Linked DNA regions of Homo sapiens: region 2 is linked to region 1. The links come from fine-mapping of genetic effects on gene expression. A gene starts in region 1. The other region holds a variant in brackets. All regions are shown on one strand. Distances are from middle to middle.

Region 1 (2,909 bases):
TGGGCAACAGAGTGAGACTTCGTTTCAAAAAAAAAGAGAGAAGCGAGAGACTGGATTGTAAATGTTGCTTTTGTCCTAAAGGTAATGACAGCTCACATTTACTGACTGCACTGTGCCAGACATGGTTGTGAACAGTTCGAGTTAATCTTTTTTATAACCTATGTGGATAGGTACCAATTTTATTATCCCCTTCTCTATAGACAAGGAAATAAGCACAGAATAAGTCATTATATGCAACCAGCGTCCAAGTCCTGGTAGTCAAGGGAGGAGAGTGATTCAAGAATGAGGGAATAATCAATGCAGCAATGAAAATTGAAGGCCAAGTTTCATAAGAGCTGAAAATCCCCACTGGATTTGGCACTTGGATCCCTGGTGAGTTCAGGTGCAATTTTAATTAAAAGCTGTGTGCAGGCCAGATTAAGATGTTTTAAGGAAAGTATGGGAAGTGAGAAAAGAGTCCATATTACTCTTGAAAGTTTGTAAAGGGAAGCAGAAACTTCATGGTATAGGGCAGTGGAGCTCTAGAGTCAGGTCTGGATTTTAATTCTGGTTCTGCCATTTGTGTGTGATGCTGAGTGAACTGTGCTAAACGTCCAAGGAAACCTTTGTTTCCTCATCCAGAAAATGAAACTAATACCTACTTTGTAGGGTTGGTATGAAGATTAAATGAGACTAATGTGTGTGAAGTCCCTGGAATACAGTAGGTACTGTATAAAATGAAATTAAGGTTGTGGAGGGTTTGTTTTTAAAGGTGAGAATGTTCCTAGGTTAAGAAGAAGCTACAGCCTAGAGAGGCTGACAATAAAAAGGGTCTATACTGAGAAGAATGGGGTGGTCTGTGGTTTCACAGCTAGTGAAACCGGCTGTGTCTGGTGCTCACTCCACTCTGCAAGTCAGAAGCAAGAGAAGTCAGCCCCAGAGTTTCTATTTGGAGGAGCTTAGAAACAATCTTAGAAAGTGGGTGCTAAGGCAGATTTCTCTTAAGTATGCCTACCAAGCACACTGCCTCCCTGTCTGGGGTGTGCGATTGGTGGTGGATTGGAAGGGAACTAATGGAGATTGTGGGTACGCTCAAGCCCTTAACAAGCCTCCCTTTTCGCAGATCCTTACCCGAGGGCTCTCTAGCAACTCCAGAGCCCTCTAGATTTTCTTCTCACAAGCTTTCATAACCGTCTCTTTTCGAGGGTTTTCCTCTGCGCAGTTCTTCGCGCGGGACCTCAAAGTGCGTGCCCGCTTCCCTTCCCTGCAGCACTAAAGACAAACCTGGCGGGTCCCCCGGAGCGGTCCCAGGCGCGCGCGCTCGGGAGCCCACGGGCCACACCCGCCTCCTAGCAACCGGAGCTCAGGTTCAGCCTAGAGAGAGAGGAGGCCACCATGGACCAGCCAGCCGTCGCCACCGCTTCCACCTCAATAAGGGAAGACCTGGTGGGTGGAGAATCATTCATCACAGCTTCGGTAAGATGGCCTGCCCCTTGCCGGCCTGGCTCCTGCTCCCCTCACCAGGCCCACTACCCTTTTCCCACCGCTCTCTAATCCCAGGCCTTCGTGCCGCTCTCGTTCCCTCTTCCTACCCTTCTCTCCCTGCCCTCACGCACGTCTCCACCTGCGGACCTTCCTTCCTGGTCTTTATTGGACATTTCCTTTGTTTTATTTCTTTTCCCCTTGCTTCTTCCCTTTTCCTTCTCCTTCGCCCTTTGTTTTCTGTATTTTTCCCTTCTTCCCACTACTAATTAAACTGGACAACTGCTTTAATATGGTGATTGGATTTCTTTCCCTTTCCGCTCCATCTGCCGGAAGACTGGGTTTTTCCTTCTGTAGTTTTACTAGACACGTTTTGCTCCGCCTCCTACTTTAATATTTATAAAAATATTTGAAGCTACTTTTGCTACGTTTTTCTTTTAGAGTCTCGCTCTGTCACCCAGGCAGGAGTGCAGCGGTGTGATCTCGGCTCACTGCAACCTCCGCCTCCCGGGTTCAAGGGATTCTCCTGCCTCAGCCTCCCGCGTAGCTGGGATTACAGGCATGCACCGCCATGGCTGGCCTTTGTTACATTTTAAAATAAATGTGGGTGAGGGTTGTTTAACCTAATCTTTTATCTTTCCCCTTAGAGTGAATTTAAAGTGGTAGATAGATGGAATTTAGATCACCTGTCTTGGGCAAAACAAAACAGCAGCTGCCAATTGTCTTCCATTAGATTGATCGCGTTTACTTCTCTCTCCTTCCCATCTCATTTTCCTTATTCTGGGGTAGGGGTGGGAGGCCTGTCTTGACCTGCCTGAGAAAGTTGTATTTCTGTGACTATAAAAGTGCAACAGAGAAGATTCAACATAAATCTCGCGAAGAAGTATCAAAGAAGAAGCTCAGCTTTAGCAGTGTCATGAGAAAATGTTTTTTAAAGAAATTAACATATTTCATAATAAAATAAAGCCCAGTGGTACTCATAAGTACAGTAGATTTAAGTTACTAGACAGGAAGAATGAATTATATCAGTTTTACTGATTATTACTTTTAATGCAGTCCTGCTTGATGACCTATATTTTATAGTAATAAAGGCATTATAAATGAAAGGAGAACTCAACATTTTAATGATTTTATCTAGGACAAACAGCAATATACTAAACGGTTGTGTTCTGTGGACAATGGGCTGAAATAAATATGAAATAATAATGGATGAATGGGTATAGAGTACTAAATATGAAGACAAAAGCTTCCTTGGAAACTGAGGAATACCAAAATAATCAGCTTCTTAACTTGGCAAATGGGATGTTAAAAATTAAAGCTACCATTTATTAAGCACTGATTGTATATGCAAGTCTTTATAAGTACAATGCCTTAGTCTTTTTTTTCCCCCTGAGGTGGCTTCTTGCTTTGTCGCCCAGGCTGGAGTTGCAGTGATGTGATCTCGGCCC
Region 2 (2,909 bases), 71 kb after region 1:
GGTTAGAGAAACCCCTCAAACTAGCAAGGGGAAGAAGGGGGTCAGATTGTAAGGATTTAGAGGCATCTCATCGACAAAAGTGTAAACCAGGGGCTGGCAAGAACCATCTCTCTCTCTCTCTCTCTCTCTCTCTCTCTCTCTCACTCTGTGTCTGTGTGTGTGTGTGTGTGTGTCTTGCTCTCACTCTCTCAGGCCTCATGGTCTCCCTCCTCTCTCTCAGGCCTCATGGTCTCCCCTCTGCCTCTCTCAGGCCTCATGGTCTCCCCTCTGCCTCTCTCAGGCCTCATGGTCTCCCTCCTGTCTCTCAGGCCTCATGGTCTCCCCTCTGCCTCTCTCAGGTCTCTCTCTCTCTCTGTCTCTCTCTCTCTGTGTGTGTGTGTGTGTGTGTGTGTGTGTGTATGTGTTCTTGCTCTCACTCTCTCACCCTCTCAGGCCTCATGGTCTCCCCTCTGCCTCTCTCAGGCCTCATGGTCTGCCCTCCGCCTCTCTCAGGCCTCATGGTCTCCCCTCTGCCTCTCTCAGGCCTCATGGTCTGCCCTCCGCCTCTCTCAGGCCTCATGGTCTGCCCTCCGCCTCTCTCAGGCCTCTTGGTCTACCTTCCTCCTCTCTCTCAGGCCTCAGGGTCTCCCCTCCGCCTCTCTCAGGCCTGCTTTTTTCTCCCTCTGGAGGCTGACTTTCACTGCCTCTTTATATGTAGAGGATCAAATGCGGCGACCTCAGCTTCTCCTCATATCACTTTCTGAGTCAACATTCTAAAAGAATAGAGCCGGCACCTCCTTGGTTCAAGTCTCCAATTCCTAGGAGAGAGAATCCAGTTGGCCAGCTTGGGTCAGGGGTCTGCGCCTGGGCCACGAGCTGTGGTCAGAAGGGCCCAGACCTTTGCTGCAGGCACGGCTGCGGGGGCCCGTGTGAGGTGCGTGTAACTGGGGTGGAGGGCAGCTCCCTGGCATCCCAGGAGAGAATGAGGACCCTGTCGGAATCATAAGGGGAAAGCGTTTATACCAGCTTGCAGGAAGAGGGTGGGGGCCTGCAGAGACTTCCCCTGGAGGTGGAACCCATGGAGAAGATTCTGCAGGGCCATCTGGGCTGCTTCCGTTTCCCCCAGCAGATGCTTCTTCCTGCTCTGGGCTTTTGCCCAGATAGGGTTCCTTGCCCCTGACCCTCCTCCTTCTCGCTGATCTCAGCTTCCTGATCC[C/G]TGGGGTGCCGGCCAACTGCACTCCTACATGATTTTCTGGGGAAAGCTAGTGCCTGACCATGACCAGGTGACAGTTGTTCTGGGTAGAAGGACAAGCAAGGGCCTGAACCCATGTGCTTTTGCTGGTCTGATTCTTGGCTGGGGTCCCTACAGACCCCTTGGTTTTGGCCAAGGGCAGGGCTGCAGGCGCATAGAACCTGCCAGGCTCAAAGGGAAGGGGTTGGGCTCTGGATTCAGGGCCTCATGGCCTGCCCGTCCCACCCTCCTCTTAGCAGGGCTGGGTGGGCTTTGGGGGCCAGTGCCCAAGCCCCAGACCCTGGCTGGGCTTATTTGCAGCCTCCTCAGAGAAAAGGCAACTCTGGAGAGCAGGAGGGGCCAAGGCTGGAACCATGGGAGGCTGGGAGGTGGTGGGGGCATGAGGAAGGAAGGAGCAGGAGATGGGTGATGGGAGGAGGGAGGACGGAGTGGCAAGAGAAGGGGCTCCTGGGGATGGACTTGTAGGGGAAGGCCTCCCAGTACATACCCCTCAATTGTCTTGTTAACAACAGCCTTGCCCATATTTGAGCCCAGAAAAAGGTGCCATCCTTCTAGACAGTTGTAGGGGCTCCAAGGGGTCTAACTAGCATGGGAGCAAGCTAGCACCGTGACTGCTTTGGTGGGAGTGTGCTTTAGTTCCTGAAAACTGTAGGCAGACAGGGTGACTGCAGGAAGTTAACTCAGGCTATGACACTGCGTCTTTGGTCACCAGAGTGGGCTGAGTGGGGGCAGAGGCAGGTACTGACAAGCATTCTATTCACCTCACCCCGTTGCAGCCTAGCAGCCTGGGAGGAGGCCGTGGGGGACAGCAAGGCAATGTGCTGGGAGCTGTGCTGGTCACAGGTGGAGTGCAGGGCTTGATGAAGGCTGGCCGCTGCCCCCCTCTTCCCTGCTCTGAAGTTCCAGGGCTCCAAGGCCCTGCATGGTCACTGAGCGCCATCAAGGAGGAGGGAAGTTGCTGGAGCTTTCCCGATTGAACAGCGTCAGAGTGGACACTTGGAAATATACCAGGCAGGATCACGCCTATTCAGGCTTCTAATCCTCAGCCCCTCCTGGGCTGGGCATGGGAGCTGGACTTGCAGAATACCCCAAAGCGCAGGTTGACAAAGGCCTCCCTGAGCCCTTGTGCCCATCTGTGCTGGGGTAGCTCATTCACTCAACCCTCTGTGTGAATTTCTTGTGGCTGCTGTAACAAATGACCACAGACTTTGTTGCTCAAAACAACACAATTTTATTACCTTACAGGTCTAGAGGTCAGAAATCCAAAATCATTCTTATTTGGCCAAAGTGAGGATTTTGACAGGGCTGGTTCCTTCTGGAAGCTCTGAGAGTTGGCTTCCTTGTCTTCTGCTTCTCGAGACCACTTGCATTTCTTTCCTTGCAGCCCTTCCTCCGATCGCTCCACTCTCATTTCCGTCATCACATCTCCCCCTGTTGACTCTGACCCTCCTGCCTGCCTTATATAAGGACTGTTGTAGTTATATTGGGCCCACTGGATAATCCAGGATAACCTCCTCATCTCAAGATTCTTATTTATTTATTTATTTATTTATTTATTTTTGAGATGGAGTCTCACTCTTGTCACCCAGGCTGGAGTGCAGTGGCGCGATTTCAGCTCACTGAGACCTCTACCTCCCAGGTTCAAGTGATTCTCCTGCCTCAGCCTCCCAAGTAGCTG

Evidence for each region.
Region 2: its variant is fine-mapped to the expression of STPG4 in whole blood (TOPMed, PIP 0.90).

What each region holds. Positions count from the first base shown.
Region 1 is chr2:47,153,717-47,156,625 of GRCh38, reverse strand. STPG4 (sperm-tail PG-rich repeat containing 4) reads left to right here and starts at 1,318. Exons shown (of 7, transcript NM_001163561.2): 1 at 1,318-1,455. The coding sequence starts at 1,375. RefSeq lists an enhancer at 641-800.
Region 2 is chr2:47,082,269-47,085,177 of GRCh38, reverse strand. No RefSeq gene overlaps it. Among named protein-coding and RNA genes, the nearest start is that of STPG4, 72 kb to the left of the region's middle. The variant C/G (reference allele first, on the strand shown) is at 1,196.